3 linked regions of the Homo sapiens genome follow. The protein of the gene in region 1 purifies or fractionates together with the protein of each later gene. This does not show direct contact. Each region holds a gene or a part of one and is shown in the gene's direction. Other genes may lie near its edges.

Evidence for each region.
Region 2: the proteins of TAFA1 (region 1) and ZER1 purify together in Homo sapiens (affinity purification with mass spectrometry; 2 studies listed by BioGRID and IntAct, with this or other methods). This does not show direct contact.
Region 3: the proteins of TAFA1 (region 1) and NRXN3 purify together in Homo sapiens (affinity purification with mass spectrometry; 2 studies listed by BioGRID and IntAct, with this or other methods). This does not show direct contact.

Annotation. Positions count from the first base shown.
Region 1 is NC_000003.12:68,007,247-68,014,268, forward strand, and holds part of TAFA1 (chemokine-like protein TAFA-1 isoform 1 precursor), read left to right. Parts: intron 1-7,022.
Region 2 is NC_000009.12:128,733,928-128,740,949, reverse strand, and holds part of ZER1 (protein zer-1 homolog), read left to right. Parts: intron 1-62; coding exon 63-178; intron 179-830; coding exon 831-1,019; intron 1,020-5,518; coding exon 5,519-5,616; intron 5,617-7,022. UniProt on the Homo sapiens protein: Serves as substrate adapter subunit in the E3 ubiquitin ligase complex ZYG11B-CUL2-Elongin BC. Acts to target substrates bearing N-terminal degrons for proteasomal degradation with the first four residues of substrates being the key recognition elements.
Region 3 is NC_000014.9:78,165,660-78,173,372, forward strand, and holds the start of NRXN3 (neurexin 3), read left to right. Parts: upstream 1-4,713; 5' UTR 4,714-5,015; intron 5,016-7,713. UniProt on the Homo sapiens protein: Neuronal cell surface protein that may be involved in cell recognition and cell adhesion. May mediate intracellular signaling. Functions as part of a trans-synaptic complex by binding to cerebellins and postsynaptic GRID1.

The DNA of each region.
Region 1 (7,022 bases):
TTCTTCCGGTATGCTCAGTGGCATTTTTCCCTCTCTTTTGGCAGTTTCAGGGACGAAGTCCCTCCCACCTGATTTTTGTTTTGTTTTGTTTTGTTTTTCCTATATTGAATTTTTAGTTCCGGACGCATTTTGCTTTCTTCCTCTTAATGTTCAAAGTATATTTCTCACCCTTCCACGGCCTCGCTCTTCATTCTGGATTTTGCTCTCCTTCTTTGCCTCTCCAGCTTTCTCATTACAGTCCCTCCCAGCTCGATTGTCCTTACCTTCCCCGGTTCTTGGAAAAATTTCCTTCCATTTTCTGTTCAGTATCAGCCTTCGCATCCTTCTACTACTCACCCCGCCTTCACCCTCCACCCCACCTCCCTCCCTCCCCTCCCTTCCTCTCTCGCGACGGTCAAGTTCGGGCTCTGGGGACCAGTTGCGCGCCCAAGTTTCTGATGCTCAGTTCTGAAGTGCTCCCAGCCCTCCACCCGCCTCTCCAAATCCCATCAATGGCCTCCTCCCCCCATCCGTCGAGCTTCCTCCTGCTGCGTAGTCCAGCGTCTACGCCCTCGCCTTTCCCTGGCTCCTCAGTCGGCCTGGACACCGATACTAGGCTCTTCTGTACAGCCCTCCAGCAATACCTTCCGGGGCCCCGCTTGCTGCCTCCTGGGGCTCAGCTTCCCTGCTGGGGGCAGGCATGTCAGAGCGCGGATGCAGCCCAGGGTCCTCCCGCGCGCCTGCACCAGGCTGCAGCGAGCGCGCAAGCCTGCTGGGTGCTGGAGCTCGGGCCGCCCCGGGAGAAGGGGTGGGGCTGGCTTGTGCTAGGGGCTGAGGCTGGGGGCTGTTTCTGGGCCCTGCCACCCTGTTTCCCCCAGCCCTGGTCTGACAGGGAAGGCGAGGGGGCGCTGGTGCCCCTGCAGGTGGGCAGGGAAACCGCCCTCTTCAGGACGCGCTTGTATTTCTGCATCCTGTGTCCTGAGCCTGGCGCGGGAACCGCCACTCAAACCCTCAGTGCAGCCGAGATGGAGGGAAAACAAAAGTGAATTTGAGATTCCCACTTTACCTCCAATCACTTAATCACAATTTGTTCTGGCACAAATGTCTTTCACTTGTTACATGGTCATAAATAATAAACAGTGCGGGACATCTGCATTCGTTGTGATGATCAAGAATAAGAATTCATAATAAAAACAACTACTACGTGTATGTTTTAGGCAGGGCTCTGAGGATTAGTTCACACTGTTCAGTTTAATCCTTATGCAAGTGGGTGTAATTTCTCCCCTTTCGCCCAGGAAACAGAAGCTCTGAAAGGTTAGGTGGCTTGTCTGAGGCCACACAGGGAATAGCTGCCATTGGAGGTCAAATCAGCACGATTCACCGCCAGAGCCTGTGTCCTCAGGAGGCGAAAATGCCTCTCGGTGCACCGAGTGACCATGCCAAATAGCTTCTTTGAGGAAGTGTGAGCCCCTTCATATAATTTTTGAAAACTTTCATTATGTCAATACTTGGTCCAATCTCAACTGCACACCCATTCTGAGAGGTGGCCATGGCAGAACTAGTGAGTGGCACGTGGTTGAGGGGGAAAGGCAGGGCTCGGGGCTGGCCACCTGAGTCTCTGTCACTTAAGGTTAGTGACATAACCTTGGGCAACTGACTTTTCTGCTCTCATTCCCCATTTATAGATATGGTGGTTGGGGGCGGGGAGAGGTGGGGTGTAAATATAATAAAAATAACTTCGAATAAGTCTTTTGTAAGCTGTAAAGTTCTTCACAAATATTGGGAATTACTGATGTCCCCCCTTAATAGACTGTAAACCCACAAGCCAGGGATGTTTGATGAATAAAGTTTTGCTGTTCACACAGCTAATAATCCACATAGCCAAGGCAACAACTCTTTTTTTTCTCTTGCTATTGTTTTGTTAACCATGTGGTACATGGCTAGAATATACTACCAATGCTATGTGTCTTATTTTACTCTGTGCGTATAATCATGAAATAGATACAGTACCGTTTGTAACAAGCTTTCACATAGTTGTCTCTCTTAATCAGTGAATATATGGAGTTTTTCATTGGGGGTTATGTATAATAAGTAAACTTATGTCTTTATAGGGCTTATTGTTAAAATACCGTAGTTTAAAACTGAGAATCACATATTAGGTTCTGGCTGAAATTAAACTCAATATTTGTTTTCTCCATTTTCTTCCTTAGAATTTGTGTATTATCAACCAATGCGTGGTTGATCTGTGCGTCAAATACCCCAAGAAACTGCAGCACTGAAACCAATTTTGACCCCAAGTGCTAATACATCTGAGACCCATTTCAGCTTTATTGTTGAAATGAAGAAACTATAAATATCCCTTCCTAGATGCAGAATGATTAAAATGATATTAAACTTAACATCCAATAGTTCTATATAATACGTTTATTCAACTTTCTTTGGTTTTTGACAATAGCTGCAAAGATTAAAGTGATAGATCTTGGTCATAGCCATATTCTAGATTATTCCAGTCAGACTCTTTAATACAATCTTTTGATTTTAAGAATAAAAATATGCTTTTATTTTGGATGAGAGTTGTGACGTTTTCCCTTGTAGGTCTTAAATCTCCAGGGACACTAATGAAATGTGTATGAAAACAAGATAGAAATCAGGGCCAGTTATCTGTGACAATCCACCCCTAAATGAACAAATAAATAAATAAATTGCTGGATAAATGAGCAAAAAGGAAAAACATAATCTCATTTTCTCAAATCGGTTAAAACAAGTGACATGATGAGAAAAAAATGAGACACCCGCAGACCCTGAGCTCTGCCACATTTGCCTAAGCTTGAAAAATCACCTCTTTCATAAAGCAAGAGCAGGCAGACTCCGCGTGCATACCAAGTATCTGGGAAATGTGGAAAATGACAAATCTTTCACTCAGAGCCTTGAATGGAAGGAGAGTGAAAGCTTTACAGCTGCTTCCTCACCTGCTTAGGAATGGCTCCCCCCAATCCCCTCCCTCTGTTCCCCAGCCTCTTACGGGCACTTTGGCTGTTCCTTGCATGGTAATATTGATGGTATTCAGACAGCAAACAGCCAATTTCAGTCTCTCAAGAAATAATCCACTACATTGACAGGTGAGTGGAATTTGACGTGATGTTCCCCTCGTTCAGATTGCCTCACCTGGATGGCACCAGCCAGCCAGGGTCCTTTAGGGGAAATGGTTAGAGACTTGGGCCAATTTCTGCTGTCATAACATGAAATCGAGACCACGTTTTTGTGAGGCCGTGAATTTGTGATCTGTCTTCTCAATGCAGTGGGTTTGTACACAAACAGAATGAGAATATGTTAACTAGAAAACTGACTCATTTTAATGTATTCGCCTGCAGTCTCTAACTACTTCCTATTTTTCATATTTATAGTATTAGGAATGCACCATTTATTTTCAGTTACTCACTAGTTAAGGAAGATTAAAACAGTCAATCAAATGAAAGTGAATTTTAAAATTACACTAATGAGTAAAATGTGCTGTAGATTAACAGATTTGTAATTTCAATAATTTAATATTTGGCTGGATCAAGTTTTTATTTGGGGAATGATGTAGGAAATTACCCTAAAAACTTGAAGAATACTTGAGCTTCTTTTTTATTTTTCATTATAAAGCTATAGACAGGACATTTAGTTGTAAAAAGACACACTAAAAAATGAAAACTCAAAAGTGGTGTTCAATTGTTTCAGGTAATTATAAAATAGACACCTCAACTCTTTATAATCACCAGGTTTTTTTGTGTAACAGGTAAAAAAAGATTGAACGGTTTTTGCTAATCATAATTTTCTGTTTTAGGATGAGTTTTTCCCCTTATGGATATATGAATTAGGACAGCAATTTTGATAGTTACTTAATTTTGAATGTGTGTGTGTGGGGGGTGGTGGGGGGGTGGGTGTCCTTGAAACTTAGTAAAATATAAATCATCTCAAAATTATTTAGCAAGAGAAGATCCTTGGGATTCTTCAGTAATTTTAAATTATATAGATAAATTACATGAGACAAGAAGTTTTAAGTGCCTAATGAATCATTTATTCCTGAGTCACTGCTATTTTATCGACAGGGGTGTACGGAAATGATATATAAAAAGATTACTCTGAATAGAGTTGTCTGTGTAATTTATACTTGACCTGATTTAAAGCTATATTAAGCAAACTATGTGTGTTAGATATATTCATTTTTGCCTTGATTATTACATACTGAACATCACCTTCCATTTTAAAGTAGGATATTTTTGTTAAAATATTAAAAAGCATTTTTGTATGCCTTATACTTATTTTTACCTTACTATTCAATATTACTTTATTGAAAGCTGCTCAGAGAATATGCAGTAGAATACCAGAGTACATTACAATAAAGGGTTGTTTTATAACTGTAATATAAAAGAAATAGTGGGTACAACTATGGTCGCATATTGGCTCTTTAAGAATGCGTACCAGTGCTAGGCTGCTAAATATAGCGAATTGGCCTAAGGATTGGAGCAGACAGGTTGTTATTCGGTGCAAGCTGGTGCTTAGTGATAATCCATCGATCATCTGATTGATCCTATTGACCTCATCGCAGAGTCAGGGTGCAGCTATTGATATTTGATCAGACCCTATAATATCAAAGCCAAATACAGATGCAAATAAATATTTCCTGCTGATCTTATGAACTTATAAGAAAATTATTACAATGCTATAAAAACTCTTACTTACGTAAGCTCAAACCTATGGTTTCAACTCCTAGTTAGGGAAAATAGATGTTATACCACACTGCAAACAAAAATATTTAGAAATGGCAAAAATGAAGTTTAGCCTTTAATTGTTAATTTCTTAAAGTTTACTTAAGAAGACAATTTGAACTCTTTTAAACATTCTTTCAATTTTAAACTTTCTGCGAAAGTATCAAAGCTTAACTGGATAAATCGGCATGCCATTTTTGATAACAATTTAGTAACATCTCCCAAGATGTAAAATGTGCAAATCCTGACACTTCCATTTCCAGGTGCTTATACTAAGAAAATTATTAGACAAATGTGAAAAGATGTATGTTAAGCTATAGTTATTGCAACAATGGTTTTAATGGCAAAAAATTGAAGAGGAGTTTCATCTCCGTCAAAAGGGGATTGGTAAAATAAATCATAGCACATCCACACAATGGGATTTGATGTAGACATTAAAAGGGATGAGAATATGTCTATCTACCCACGAGGAAAAATGCCCATGTTACATTGCTGAGTGGAGAAAACAAGGAACAGAATACTCTGCTTCAAAATAATTTTGGAGAAAAGAATCATATTTGCACATACATAAAAATGTCAAAAAGGATATAAACATCCTTTCTACAGTGGTAGTTAAATCTGGTGAGAGGACTAGAATGACTTGAACTTTTAACTTCCTATAATTTTTATTTTTTGGATTCATTTTTGGAATGAACATATATTGCTTTTTATCAAAAAGCTTAAAATATTAGTGAGAGAGTTTCAATGGTAAAATTAGAAAGATACCAAACCACGTTTCCAGTTTAAGAAAAAAGAAGGGAGAATAAGTAGGAAAATATCATGAGGCCCTTTTCCTTTTAAGGGTCTTAATCCAGTAAAATGTCTAGGCCAGCATTTCAGAATTATACTTCATGAAACACTGTCTTCTGAAGATACTCCTTGGACAAAAGTGTCCACTGTTTGTTATGTTCTCCTCCTGGAGATTTGCAGTGCTTGTAAGTATATGAAAGTTCTGGAAAGATTTGCGTGTAAGAAATCTGATTTTGTTTAACTAAAATTTTCCAGACACTTTTTTTTTCGACAGCATCTACCATACCTATTCAGATTACATGCATTGAGAAGCATGGGCCAAGATAATTCTGGAATCCTCTGTTCATCCTTTTATCTCTCACTTCTACTGAGTTGACACATACTAGGTTCTCAGAAAATACTTGTTTAATTACTAAGGAAACGAGGAATGAAGATTTTGGTGGAATCTTAAACTGTTCCTTAGTTGTTACTACTTGTGTGTGAGTGTGTGTGTACATATGGATGTATGTGCATTTTTGTGTGTGTGTTTATAATTTCGAGATTTCTCAAATGGAGAGTGTCATAAACATTATTTTGTCAGTATAACATACATGTATTATGTGTGTATCTTTATGTAGATATTTGACTCTATTCAATTTTGACAGCTACTCCATTCAAAATAATTCAAAGACTATACTTACAAATGTAGTGAAAAATTAAATCCCTAAGGTTTTCAGTCACAGGTTTGGGGATTTTTCTCCTCTATAAGTTTAGAAAAGACTATAGGAGTTGTCTTGAGGGACTGAAGAGGCTTCACTTGGCAAATAGGGAAAGGACTTTTACTTTCCAAATCTTTTGATATCAAGAGAAAAAGTCACTTTGCCTTTGTAGCAGAGAGAAAATAACACCAGACAAGCACTTTTTCCTTTCTTTGGGAATAAAGAGAAGATGAATTTTGTTTAAAATTTGTATAACCTAATTGAATTCCCCAAAGATAATACCCTCAAAGCACTTAGGGAACTCTGTTGGCCCATTATTTCTTTCTCTTTTCCCAACTTCATATAATAAAGGTCCAAAAAAGAAAAGAAAAATGATATTATCACAGGGTTTCTCCAAGAAAATGGATAGGAATGCTGAGGGATCTGCCTATTCATTAAGCAGATCTTTCTTTAACGCAGGGAAGGAGTCAAACCAAGTTGTTCTCTGAGTCTGCAAGGGAGGAAGACCTCTCACATCCTTAGGTGTGGCATTGTTCTACTGATGTAATTACTGGCATTTACCTTTACTATGCAGTTACTAGACCTTCTTTTCTAGGTGTGCTTTCATATCACACAAGAATAAATCCAAGCTGAATCTGTGTACATTCAGAGGACTTTTCTTATTTTCCACTTTTGTGGATGAAGAATGGACCAATTGATTCACATACTTTCAAGTGAATACAGAATGTCAGCTCCTAGATTTAGATAAGCTAATACACAGGCAGGGGGTAAAGCACCTCAGTGTTCCTGAAATTAACAGTATACT
Region 2 (7,022 bases), on another chromosome or scaffold:
AATACCAGATACTAAGTCATTAAGTACTAATTGATGCGGCCCATTGGCTCTCCTTTTCCCAGGAATTCCCAGAGAAGCAGGAACTGCATAGGAATATGCTAGGACTTTTGGGGAATGTGGCAGAAGTGAAGGAGCTGAGGCCTCAACTAATGACTTCCCAGTTCATCAGCGTCTTCAGGTTGGTATTTTTAATCCTTTCCCTTTTTGCCTTAGCTGCCACAATGCTCAGAGCTCTAGCGTTTGCTCAGTTGCACAACTGCTCTTAGCCTAGGTTTGCTATAAATGTCATTTTCCCTCGATAATGTGGTTTCTTATTCATTCAATCCTTCGTAAGTGGTCCTTTTGTAATTATATCTTTTTTTTTTTTTTTGAGATGGAGTCTTGCTCTGTCACCCAGGCTGAAGTGCAGTGGCACAATCTAGGCTCACTGCAAGCTCTGCCTCCCGGGTTCACGCCATTCTCCTGCCTCAGCCTCCCGAGTAGCTGAGACTACAGGCGCCTGCCACCACGCCCAGCTAATTTTTTTGTATTTTTAGTAGAGATGGGGTTTCACCATGTTAGCCAGGATGGTCTCGATCTCCGGACCTCGTGATCCACCTGCCTTGACCTCCCAAAGTGCTGGGATTACAGGCGTGAGCCACTGCGCCCAGCCTGTAATTATATCTTAAATGACCTCAAATCCCTTTAGAAGTAGTCTGGGTATATAGACGATATGGGATAAAGAAATAAGTAGCACCTCTTGCTTCTGGTTTTAAGTTGGGGTCCTGCCGCTGGTATCTGAAGAGAAACTGGGGGAGTGGGACTCCATTTTTCTGTCTTTCTCCTGGCAGCAACCTGTTGGAGAGCAAGGCCGATGGGATCGAGGTTTCCTACAATGCCTGCGGCGTCCTCTCCCACATCATGTTTGATGGACCCGAGGCCTGGGGCGTCTGTGAGCCCCAGCGTGAGGAGGTGGAGGAACGCATGTGGGCTGCCATCCAGAGCTGGGACATAAACTCTCGGAGAAACATCAATTACAGGTGTGGGCAGGGCAGGGAGCGGGGATGCGGTGTGGAATATGGGGTAAGTGCTGGGCAGGATGCTCATACCATTAAGGTCTGCTCAGAGCTCCCACCTTCCTTCTGGTCTTCTGTAGGGTTCTGCTTTCACTCATTGATACGTAGCCGCACACAGCACAGAGCATACATAAGGGCACGATCTCATCCGTGCAGCCTGGAGCATTTGTCATACATGCCAACATCTGCATGTACCCAAAGCCTGCTCTTTGCAAACCACTAATACCTACTGATTTGTGGGGAGGGGTGGGGAGAAAATAGACACACAACAGAAAACCATACAGGTGGGCCGGGCACAGTAGCTCTTGCCCATAATCCCAGCACTTTGGGAAGCTGAGACAGGAGGATCACTTGAGCCCAAGATTTCCTTTCTTTTCTTTTTTTTTTTTTTTTGAGACAGAGTCTTGCTCTGTCGCCCAGGCTGGAGTGCAGTGGTGCAATCTCAGCTGACTGCAAGCTCTGCCTCCTGGGTTCACGCCATTTTCCTGCCTCAGCCTCAGAGTAGCTGGGATTACAGGCACCCGCCACCACGCCCGGTTAATTTTTTTGTATTTTTAGTAGAGACGAGTTTTCACCGTGTTAGCCAGGATAGTTTCGATCTCCTGACCTCGTGATCCGCCCACGTCGGCCTCCCAAAGTGCTGGGATTACAGGCATGAGCCACTGCGTCCAGCTGAGCCCAAGATTTCAAGACCAGCTTGGGCAACATAGTGAGACTTCCTCTTTACGAAAAATTTTAAAAATCAGGCCAGGTGCAGTGGTTCACGCCTGTAATCATAGCACTTTAGGAGGCTGAGGCGGGCAGATCACGAGGTCAGGAGTTCAAGACCAGCCTGCCCAACATGGTGAAACCCCGTCCCTACTAAAAATACAAAAATTAACCTGGCGTGGTGGCACATACCTGTAATCCCAGCTACTCAGGAGGCTGAGGCAGGAGAATCGCTTGAACCCAGGAGGCAGAGGTTGCAGTGAACCGAGATGGCGCCACTGCATTCCAGCCTGGGCAACAGACCAAGACTCCATCTCAAAAAAAAAAAAAAAAAAAAATGAGCTGGGTGTGATGGTGCACACCTGTAGTCCCACCTACTGGGGAGGCTGAGGCAGGAGGGTCACTTGAGCCCAGGAGGTCGAGGCTGTAGTGAGCCAACATCATGCTACTGCACTCCAGCCTAGGGGACAGAATGAGACCATTTCTTTAAAAAAAAGAAGAAGGTCAGGCGCGGTGGCTCACACCCGTAATCCCAGCACTTTGGGAGGCAGAGGCGGGCGGATCATGAGGTCAGGAAATCGAGACCATCTTGGCTAACGCAGTGAAACCCCACCTCTACTAAAAATACAAAAAATTAGCCGGGCGTGGTGGCATGCGCCTGTAGTCCCAGCTACTCGGGAGGCTGAGGCAGGAGAATGGTGTGAACCTGGGAGGCGGAGCTTGCAGTTAGCCGAGATCGCGCCACTGCACTCCAGCCTGGGCGACAGAGCGAGACTCCGTCTCAAAAATAAATAAATAAAAATAAAAATAAAAATAAATTAAAAAAACAAGAAAACAAAACAGGGCCGGGCACAGTGGCTCACACCTGTAATCCCAGCACTTTGGGAGGCAGAGGCGGGCAGATCATGAGGTCAGGAAATCGAGACCATCTTGGCTAACGCAGTGAAACCCCACCTCTACTAAAAATACAAAAAATTAGCCGGGCGTGGTGGCATGCGCCTGTAGTCCCAGCTACTCGGGAGGCTGAGGCAGGAGAATGGCGTGAACCTGGGAGGCGGAGCTTGCAGTTAGCCAAGATCGCGCCACTGCACTCCAGCCTGGGCGACAGAGCGAGACTCCGTCTCAAAAATAAATAAATAAAAATAAAAATAAAAATGAATAAAAAAAACAAGAAAACAAAACAGGGCCGGGCACAGTGGCTCACACCTGTAATCCCAGCACTTTGGGAGGCTGAGGCAGGCGGATCACCTGAGGTCAGGAGTTCGAAACCAGCCTGGCCAACACAGTGAAACCCCATCTCTGCTAAAAATACAAAAATTAGCCAGGCATGGTGGTGGGCACCTGTAATCCCAGCTACTTGGGAGGCTGAGGCAGGAGAATCACTTGAACCTGGAAGGCAGAGGTTGCAGTGAGCCAAGAACTCGCCACTGCACTCCAGCCTGGGCAACAGAGTGATACTCCATCTCAAAAAAAAAAGAAGAAGAAGAAAACAAGAATCGTTCATAATCTCACTCCCTGAAAGAGAACTCCTGTTGACATTTTGGTGTGTCTCCTTCCAGCAGTGTTTCTATGCACAGATTTCATTACTTTAAGTCAAGCTGGCATCAATTCCTACTGTTTTGTGACTGACTGGCCAATCACCAGGCATGGATCTCCCTCGTCATTTTAGGACGGAGTCACTTTCTTTGTGCCATCCTGTACAGATGGACATTTCAGTTGAAAACCCATACTGGGAGGAACAGGCTGACATTGGTAGCGTTGCCAGTGTGCCAAGTACTATAGTTCTTGGGGAGAAAGGAAGCGGAATCGCTGGCCCAGGAGTTTTGCACACACGTGTTTCAGGCTTTTGGACCATGACTCCAGGCTGGCCCACAGAAGGCCCTCGTCAGAAGAGCAGTCACAGGCCGGATGCGGTGGCTCACACCTAGAATCCCAGCCACTTTGGGAGGCCAAGGCAGGAAGATCACTTGAGCTCAGGAGTTTGAAACCAGCCTGGGCAATATAGTGAGCCCTCACCTCTACAAAAAAAAAAATTTTTTTTTTGAGACGGAGTCTCGCACTGTCACCCAGGCTGGAGTGCAATGGTGTGATCTTGGCTCACTGCAACCCCCGTCTCCCAGGTTCAAGCGATTCTCCTGTCTCAGCCTCCCGAGTAGCTGGGATTACAGGTGCACGTTACCATGCTCAACTAATTTTTTGTACTTTAGTGGAGACGGGGTTTCACTGTGTTGCCCAGGTTGGTCTCAAACTCCTGAGCTCAGGCAATCCACCCCCCTCAGCCTCCCAAAGTGCTAGGATTACAGGTGTGAGCCATTGCACCTGGCCAAAAAAAATTTTTTTTTAATTAGCCAGGCATGGTGGCTCACACCTATAGTCCCAGCTCCTCAGGAGGCTGAGGTGGGAGGAACACTTGCATGGCCTGGAAGGTCAAGGCTGCAGTGAGCTGTGATCATGCCACTGCACTCCAGCCTGGGCAGCAGAGCGAGACCCTTTCTCCAAAAAAAAAAAAAAAAAGGCCAGGCATGGTGGCTCACGCCTGTAATCCTAGCACTTTGGGAGGCCAAGGCGGGTGGTCAGGAGTTCAAGACCAGCCTGGCCAACAGCAAAATGATGCTCTAACCAAAAATTAGCTGGGCATGGTGGCATGCACCTGTAGTCCCAGCTACTCGGGAGGCTGAGGCAGGAGAATCATGTGAACCCAGGAGGCAGAGGTTGCAGTGAGCCGAGATTGCACCACTGAACTCCAGCCTGGGCGACAGAGTGAGACTCCGTCTCAAAAAAAAAAAAAACAAAGAAAAAAGGGCTGGACATGGTGGTTCACGCCTATAATCCCAGCACTTTGGGAGGCCAAGGCAGGTGGATCACTTGAGGTCAGGAGTTCGAAACCAACCTGGCCAACATAGTGAAACCCTGTCTCTACCAAAAATACAAAATTTAGGCCGGGCGCGGTGGCTCACGCCTATAATCCCAGCACTCTGGGAGGCTGAGGTGGGTGGATCACGAGGTCAGGAGATCGAGACCATCCTGGCTAACACGGTGAAACCCCGTCTCTACTAAAAAATACAAAAAAATTAGCCGGGTTTGGTGGTAGGCGCCTGTAGTCCCAGCTACTCGGGAGGCTGAGGCAGGAGAATGGCGTGAACCAGGGAGGCGGAGCTTGCAGTGAGCCGAGATCATGCCACTGCACTCCAGCCTGAGCGACAGAGCAAGACTCTGTCTCAAAAGAAAAAAAAATGCAAAAATTAGCTGGGTGTGGTGGCACACCCCTGTAGTCTCAGTTACTCAGGAGGCTGAGGCAGGAGAATCGCTTGAACCCAGGAGGCAGAGGTTGCAGTGAGTGGAGATTGCACCAGTGCACCCCAGCCTGGGCAACAGAGCGAAACTCCGTCTCACAAAAAAAAAAAAAAAAAAAAAAAAAAAAAAAACCAGGTCACACGTGCTTCTGTTCCCAGGGTGCCTCTCCCCTCTTCCCCACAGGCTGGGTCTCTGCTCCTTGCTGAGGTCTCCAGCTTTCTGCTCCTCCTAATCTGGGTCCCTTGTGCCTCCCTCATGTGCTTGTGCCTTTATCCTCTCCAAGGGAACCTTGTTGTGCAGCCTGCCAGTGGGATGCAGGGCCAGCTGTCCCTTCTCCCTGGCATCCTGCCAGCCTATCATGGTTGGTCACTAGGATTCTCCAGTGGGAGGAAACCTCAGACAAGAAAAGACACACTCCCCACCCTCAGCATCCACAGTGACCTTGATTTCTTTTCCTGCAGGTCATTTGAACCAATTCTCCGCCTCCTTCCCCAGGGAATCTCTCCTGTCAGCCAGCACTGGGCAACCTGGGCCCTGTATAACCTCGTGTCTGTCTACCGTGAGTGCCAACTTGTCCTGGGTTCAGACACTCATCCAGCTGAAAGCAGATGTGCCCTCAGGGAGTTTGTAGTCCAGGAGGGGGGCATTAATTGCTGCTGTCAGCTTTTGTGCCTCAGAGCAGAACCCTCCACTTTCCAGCGTTTGTGGGACACCCAGCTTAAGGGCTCACTCCTGCCTCATCACCAGAAGCAGGCCTGGCAGGCGAAATACCTGTGCAGAGTTCCTAGACAGCTTTCTTAATGCTTCCCGCTTCCATGTGCAGGAACAGTCCAAAATCTCCATGCCTGCTGGGCTCAGTGGTGCACACCAGCTATTCAGGAGGCCGAGACAGGAGAATTGCCTGAGGTCTGGAGTTTCCAGCTGCAATGACCTATGATCATGCCTGTGAATAGCCATTGCACTCCGGCCTGAGCAACATAGTGAGACCCCCATCTCCAGAAGTAAAATAAAAGTCTCCATGCTGTCTGCATGAAAAAAAAAAAAAACACATACCATCAGCTGGTTCCAACCTGGCAGGTCACCAGAATCACCTGGTAAAAATACAGATAAATCTTAGTCCTTGGATTTGTTGAAAAAGAATATCCAGAGACAGGGCTTAGAAATCTATATTTTTACAGAAATTCCTCAAAGGATCACCATCTTTAGGAGCCACTGGTTTCACTGGTTTGGGTGACATCTTCCATAGAATGAGCGCTGGAGGCCAGGCATAGTGGCTCACACCTGTAATCCCAGCACTTAGGGAGGCTGAGGTGGGAGGATTGTTTGAGCCCAAGAGGTTGAGACCAGCACAGGCAACACAGCGCAACCCTGTCTCTACTTAAAAAAAAAAAAATTAGTCCGGGTGCAGTGGCTCATGCCTGTAATCCTAGCACATTGGGAGGCTGAGACGGGCAGATCATTTGAGGCCAAGAGTTTGAGACCACCCTGGCCAACATAGTGAAACCCCGTCTCTACTAAAAATACAAAAATTAGCTGGGCTTGATGGCACGTGCCTGTAGTCCCAGCTACTAGGGAGGCTGAGACAAAATAATCGTTTGAACCCAGGAGGCAGAGGTTGCAGTGAGCTCAGATCGTGCCACTGCACTCCAGCCTGGGTGACAGAGTGAGACTCTGTCTCAAAAAAAAAATTATATCTATTATATATATATATATATTTTTTTTAAGATTTTATATATATATATATATATTTTTTTTTTTTTTTTTTGAGACGGAGTTTTGCTCTGTCGCCCAGGCTGGAGTGCAGTGGCGCGATCTCGACTCACTGCAAGCTCCGCCTCCCGGGTTCACGCCATTCTCCTGCCTCAGCCTCCCGTGTAGCTGGGACTACAGGCGCCCGCCACCATGCCTGGCTAATTTTTGTATTTTTAGTAGAGACGGGGTTTCACCGTGTTAGCCAGGATGGTC
Region 3 (7,713 bases), on another chromosome or scaffold:
TGTAGTGAGAAACATTTCATGGGCGGTGACCTCCTTAAGGCCTGAGTGCTCAGGCTTCTCTTTGGGCTCGTGTTCTCACATGCCTGTAAGTCTCACATTCGCTTCTCTCTCCTTCCCGTGCCAGACACAGTTGTCTGGATTAGGTGCCTGGCTTTTAGAATTTGGGAAGCACTGCTGTTGACTCACTGCTGGGCCTGTGTCCTTTCACTGGGCCCCAGGGACAAGTCTTTTTGTACAAGTCTTCTCCTTGAAGGATGCCAGGCCCCTCTGTGGTATTGTCTGCACTGCATGGCCCATGTCTAATAATACTAATTAATAAGCTGTCACCTATTAATAACACTGGAATCATCATCACATAGGTGACAGAAAGCCAAATAAACTCCAGCAGGCCAGCATTGCAGCACAGCTCTTGGGGGAGGAGAGGAGAGAAGAGCATGAGGAACGTTTGAAGGGGCCTTAGGCAAAATGCTTTGGGCCAATAGCACTGGGGGCTGAATTTGAAATCTGCTTAGGAATAAGGCATGTGTGGACTTTAATGACTAAAAATCCAAGCTTATGGGGCAGGTTGGGAGCCTGGAGGGTTTGACTCAATTGAAGTGCTAGCTGAGGGATTAGAAGAACTCTCTAATGCCTGATTTCTAGTGACTTGGTCTTGGCTGGAGAAGACTGATGTTCTCAGGTTTGGTTGGGGTCGAGCAGTGGGAACTTAGATAGAAACACTCATTTAATGGATGAATAAACTGAGACATGGACCGTAATTTTTTACCCCAAATGTTATTGAAAGAATGAGTAAGTAAAAGAAGGAACCTATGTAATGAGGCTAAAAATGTCCCAGAAAAAGCAACCCTTGAAATTCACATCCTAAGAGTCATTAGGGTGGCAGGAATGGATATGCCAAGTCTTTTTATGCAGAACTCTGATTTTATAGGCATAGTCTTATTTATAAATGTGCAATTGCATGTATTTCAATACATAACATAATAAAACCAAGTTGCTGTGAGGATTAAATGAGATAATGCATTAGTGCACGCCAAATGCCTAAAAATGCCTAACTTAGTACCTGGCGGGTGGTAAACGTCCTAATAATCAAGGCTGGTAGCTGGTATACCTTGGTCAGGCCAAACCAGTTGCTCTTGGTCACCTTCCAATCTGATTGGTTGCTGACTGGACCATCTCAGATATTAAATATTTTAAATTCCACTCTGTTAATAATGACCAATACTTTCCATTGTGGACTTCCCAGGTGCCATTTACTATTGTCGGTGCTTTTGATACAATTCTCACAGGAAGCATTTGATACCATTTTTCCCATTTTATAGATGAGAAAGTGGAGGCTTGAGATGTTCAAAATTTGGCTGAGGTCTCATGGCCAAAAAATGGTGGAGCTGGGATTTGAATCCAGATGTCCTGTTTGCAGAGCCTTGGGATCTTAACCATAATGCTTCTAAGTAGAGGGTTGGCAGGGGGTAACTTGTGGTAGCAGTTGTTATTATTATTGTTATTATCATCACTGAAATAACTTTTTTTTTTTCAGAATGCCATGGGCAATGTATTCTTTTGATTGGTAGTGAAATTTTTTCTTGCTACATGCTGAAAGCACTGGTCTGGCACATTTGAGAAAAGCTGAAACAGTCCCTGGTCTGTTCTGTCCCTGAACTGAGTGAAGATGGAGCCCCACAATCTAATCAAAGGAAGGAAGATAGGCCTGTGAGAGAACCTTCTAACTTAATGACCTCTGATAATGGCCCTCCTTATCCCAGGACGGAGATGAGAGCTGAGAAGGCCTAGGGTCTCTGAGGGTTTCAGTTGTACCCATTGAGTCCTCCCTTAAAAAATAAAAATTAGTACCATTGCTGACATGGCACCATCATTTGGGCAAACAACTGATATTGCTTTTTGCTTATGGTTGCATTACACGTCTGCAAGGAGACCCATCTTACTCTCTTTGATGTTGTCTTTCCCTGCTATTTTGTACATAACCATCTTCACAAATTTGGAGCTATCTGGGGAATGCTGGATCACTAGAAAGAGCCGAATGGTAGTTAACTAAAATGGTATGGAGGAATGAGACAAAATAAGCCCACAGATTTCATGATAAAAGGCAAACTAAAAGGATACAACTGGAGTAATTGAAAGATAAATAACACTTAAGGAGCCTAAGAAAGTACAAAGCAGAATAAAATGATAATAACAAATATATTCAAAATATATAAGTTAAAGTAGGTTAGACATCAAGGGGGTAAAATGAAGTAAATAATAGTGACTACAGTGATACCCTAAATAATAAGCTAAATTATTAAAAGGGATATAATAACTTGAAATAAAGGAATGCCAACTATAGGGGGCAGTCCAAAGTTAATAATCCCATGCAGGGGCAAATGCAGACCTGTGGGCTGGGGTAGCGAACATCTGTTGAGTACTTCTGTGGGGCAGGCATCCTACGGGTATTTTATTACTTGTTTCTCAAAACAACTCTGTGAAGTAAGTACAGGTGTTACCTCCATTTTATAGGTGAGGATGCTAAGACTTGGAGAGGGTAAAGAAAGTTATTCAAATCACAAGGAATTTAGGTGGCCCAGAAAGGATTGGAATCCAGGCGTGTCCCTTAACCTCTAGGCTGTTCTGCAGACGCACTTCTCACGGGGATGTCCTTCCTAGGCTGGTGTTTGCCACAGGAATCCCACAGGCGCTGACATCTGCAGGGCACTGAGTCCTCAGGCTCTCCCTTGAGGCTTCCGCCCTCTCATCCCTTAGGTCCTTCAGGTCTCTTCCTGCTGCCCCCGAGATGAGCGTACAGTTTCCCTGGCTATTCCCGATGTCCTGCTGGATCATGGTGGCTCCTTTACATGGTTCTTCCCTCAGGAGCTCCTGACATCTAGAGCAATCCCATGCACTGTGCCTTCTGAACTTCCCTTCCACATTCTGTGGACAAATTTGGTACAGAGACTTCTAGGAAGGCCAGGTAAGGAGGATATGGAACTGGTGGCCAGGGCAGTTCAGGTCTAGAGTAAATAGGTGGGAGGTCAGATGTCATATAAAATTAATCCATGAAGGCATGTTCGTTTGTGTTCCTAAAACTACTGGATACCGTGGAGGTGTTGAAGGCTGGAGACCCGAAGACACATAAGAAAATGAGATTGTGATCTGAAAGGCAAAATAGACTGAAAAGTAGGCTAGTAATGATGGAAGTGCATATGTCCGTCTAGTCCCAGCCCAGATGCCACTTTAGTCCACCAAGCTTGCCTTGATATCCCCCACCTCCAAATCACAATTAATCACTTGCTTATCGACAATCCCATAGAGCTTCCTTTACATTGCTCTCATGATTATTTTCCCTTTGCTTTATAGAAACACATTTCTGTCCTCCTCCAATGCTTAGTGGAGTCCTTGGGGTTCAGACCTTGATAGATTCATTTTGTTTCTCATGAGCATGATGCCGGGTACATGTGCTATTAAAGTTTGCTGGGTCAGGAAAGTGCTAGGATGCTGCAAGAACATCCAGTAAAGGGCAGAAATATAAGAACTACCATCCTTGGCTGGAGGCAATAGAGTACTGTGGCTAACAGGCAGGCTCTGGAGTGGGATAGACTTGAGTTCAAATTCATTCTTAGCAGCTTCCAGCTGTGTAACCTTGGGCACCCTCTCTAAAGCTTCAACTTTTAAGACTGTGGAATGGATCTCAACTGTCAAATAGCACAAACCTCACTGGACTGAATGAGATGACCCACGTAGTGGCATATGGTAAGTGCTCAACAGCTATTAGTGGATTGGTGCTGGTCCAAGGGAGGACATGCCAGTGCAGCCCTTAAAAAGGGAGCTGGAGAAGAAAGGAGTTTGGGGCTGCATTTTCACATAAGGTGCCAGGGCCTGATGCTGAGCAAAACCTTTGTATTGGGTGCCACCGACTGTCATCTCTTGTTTAGGTTTGACTGGGGAAACGTTTCCACAGACATGAACTAGTTTGTCAAGGCTGGCAAGGGATTTTCAAGGGTTTAGGGGTGCAGTCTAGGCTCAGAGCTCAGAGTGCAAGCCACAAAAGAGAGCCATCTTCCTGAGTCACCAAAACACTTGATTCGGGCCTCTGACCCTTAGCTGGCAGCCCCTTAGGATAGGATGGGCTGTGCCTGGGTCTGTCTTTGCTGCTAGGGGCTCTGAGAGAGGAAGCCCCATTTGTCACTTTCATTTCTATGTCCCCAGCCCCTTGCAGTATGCTTCATCCTAAGCAGGCATTCAAAGTGCTTGTTGAAGGAATAGATTTGTGTCCTAGTTACAGCCCTGACTTCCACTAGATGCTCAAAGATTGCCCTGATTTTGCAAGGAAGAGCAACTACTCAGGGAAACTGAGGCACACTTGTAGGTTAGAGTCCCTCAGTCTGCAAGGAGACACACACATCCTCAGCAGTGGGGAAGTGGTTTGGTTACTGAAGCTGTAAATAAGAATTTTGTCTTTATATTAATTCCTACTCTGATTCTAGGGAAGAACTCTCCTCTCAGGCTGGAGTAAGGGGAGAACTGAGCTCAGACACTGCCTCTTAGTTGTGGGGGCTGCAAACTGCCCCTCCCTCATGATATCTTCTCAGCTGTTTGCAAAACAGTCAGGGAGGAGGTGAAGCCCTGAGCCAGGCGGCCTGTCTGTCTCTTTAAATGCTGGGGTCTGTGTGGGAGAGGGAGGGGCCGGCTCTGGAGTGCGTGAAATTCCTGGGCTCCTCCAGCAGTCTCAGGCTCAGCGCTCAGCCCTACACATCGCCTCTTGCATGCAACTCACAGAGAGGGAGAGGCAACCTGTCCTCCCCTCTCTCAGCCTCGGCATCTCCAGCCACCAAGGACCTGCTTTTCGCACCTCCAACAACCCCTCCCTTCTACCCTGCCACTCCCTCCCAGAGAGAAAGGAAAAGGAGAGAGAAAGATTCTGGAATTTGAACCTACCCAAAGAGGAAACATACCCAGCAAACTCAGTTGATTAAACATCAAACAGACATACAGACAGATCCCAAATCTTCTGTTCAACTGGAAAGGTAAGGTTTGCGGGGAAAGGAAGGCAGTCAGGGCATGAAACAACTCAAGGTTCTTGTCCGTTCTGGGAAGAGGTTGCTCCTGAGAGGGTAGAAGTTTTCAGTTGGGAGCAACCAACCTAGATTTTCTTTTTTGAATACTGTATCCATGAGCCTTGGCTGACTGTGGAAATGGCTTTTCAACTGCCTTTCTTTTCCTTCAGTTTCTCCTGGAAGTTGGGTCCTTTTCCTCCAGATGTTGGAAAAGTCAGAGAATGTTTTAGATTTTTATCTTCTTCTTCTTTTTTTTTTTTTTTTTTTGAGTCTTTCTCCTATTTGCTTGAATTGTTAGTCTGAAATGATGTGTGCTCATCACTTCATTTTGGGCAGATACTTTTTTTTTGACATTTTGTAGTCACTTCCCCCCTCATTTATTCATTTATTTATTTGGGCTGGTTAAAATGAGAAACAGAAAGGACACTCTGAGGATCACAAGAAAACAAAATTGAATTGAGACAGGGATTTCCCTAGCTGTTGAGGAATTGACGTGTATGTGAGTGTGTGTGTGCTTTTTTTTTTTTTTTTTGAGGGGGTGTGAGGAGGTGGTCCTAGAGTCTAAAAATTCAGGTTGGACTCCTGTCTTGTGAAGGTGGGCATACTTGGAGAAGGTGAAAAGGGAGTGTGTGTGTGAGTGTGTGTGTGTGTGTGTGCGCGGGTGTGTGCTCCTGTTTGGATCGGTTACAAGGGAATCTTCCTCCACTGCCTTCCATTTGTTTATATTAATGATTTAGTAGCAGGCTTGCCTGAAAACTTCCACTCTGTGTAAGCACTGTGGGTTTTGCAAGCTCTCAGTGACCTTAAAGCCTGGTTCGATGTATTGTTTTTTCCAGGCATTGTGCTGTACCCAGAGTTTCAGCTCTTTCCCTCTCTCTTTTTTAACCACAAAACTTAACTGCTTTAGAAACATCATCCTGATGACAAGGAAAAAAATGTGTCCCCCCACCCCCCATCCCTTCTTAGGCCAGTGATGTAATACCAACCTAAGGGCTCGGCTGCTTTGCAGGTGACTTACCCTGTGATTACTTGTTAAAAAAAAATAAAATTTTCCCTTCCTCCATTAAATGTCTGCCTCTTTTAATTTGGATGTAGAAATATCATCATGCAATGAGAACATCATATTTTTGCTAACCATTATTGGGGTTTAGGTAAAGTAGGATTGCTCTTCTCTGATCTTTATTGTTAATACTTTTTTTTTTAATGCAAAGGTCAGAGATCATTGAGAGCTAGCTTAGGATGGAGCAAGATAGAGTCAGGGCAAATAAAAGAGCTGGTAGGACAAGAGCTGTCTTCTCCCCGCTTCCTTCGGTTCCCGCTTTGGGGAGATAGTTTTTCTTTTACCACTACAAGCCACCCCAACATTCTTCTTTCTTCCTCTCCGCTGGGTCCTGTGGATGGCCCTGGGAGGGAGAGGGGGCACTCCTTGTCACACCTGGAGGATGGTGTAATTTTGGGGGTCAGATGACCGTTTGCCTTTGTGATGAAGGTTCCAGTGGAAATTTGAACTCCCAGCACGCTGCGTGACTTGGTACCCAGGATAGTCTATCTGGGGGCACCTGGAGGTTAGTCTGGGGAGGCTGGAGAACTGGCTCTTTATTAATTTGCCGTTCTGGGTAGAGCCTTCCTTCATCGTTCAAGGGCTTCTGCATCGCCTTTCAAGTTAAAATGGTCCCGCTGGTTATGATGGGCAAGTTTACCTAAGGGCTACTGGGTATGTGGCGGAAGGATGGAGGGGAGTGAGAGGAGGCAAGGCTGGTATTTATTTTTTAATCTTCGGGCTTAATCTGCCTAAGTCATATGGGGCAAACGATATTTCAGACGGGTGCTGGTTGTGCAGATATTCCTATTGTTTGATTTTTTGTTGTTGTTGGGGAGTGGAGTAAGGGCTCTTGGCCCATTTTCTGCAGCCTGAGGTTCATCCTGCGAGTCAGTCTTCCTTCTGGAAGGGGGGGAAAAGGCTGGACACTGGAAGTTCGCTATTAAAGTGAGCAACAGGGCTGGGTTTATTTTTTAAAAACAACCGGACTGTGCGAATGCCCTTTTCTGGAGCTTTCTGGCCCTTTCTAGTGAAATAATAATTTAAAAAAAATTGCTTCTTGAGAAGAGGAGGGGGCAGAAATTAAAGGGATTCTAGATTTTGAGAGACAGCTACGTCTTTGCTTCTCTGGTAGTTCCCTATTATTAATTATTGGGGTTTTGACGGCGTTCTGGCCTCCGTTTTTGTTGATTTCATTTTAGTGCTGCGTTTCTCCTGACTATGTTGATGATTTGCTGCTTATATAAGGGAAAGGATGTATTGAGGTGGACTGATGCTTGGGGTTTTGAGATCGGCTACTGAGATTGGGTGGCGGTTGGTGTGTTTGTCGATGTGCATGGTAGGAAGGTCTTTTCTTTTGGGTGGTAGGGGATGAGAGAATGGTGGGAGAACGGTAGATGAGATGCTACAGCAAACGGGGATGTGGGGGGAGACGGAGGTGAGGTTGGAAGTCACCGGTTTGCAGAATTTCTATTCTGCACCCCCCTTTCTCTCGCTCCTGGAAAAAAAATCCATTATCTATAAAAACACATTATTCTTCAATTGGCCTTTTAGAGAAAAAAAAGAGAGAGGGAAGGGAGGGGTTAATTTGGTGAGGGGGCTTGGTCGTAATTAGCCCACTGCTGCAAA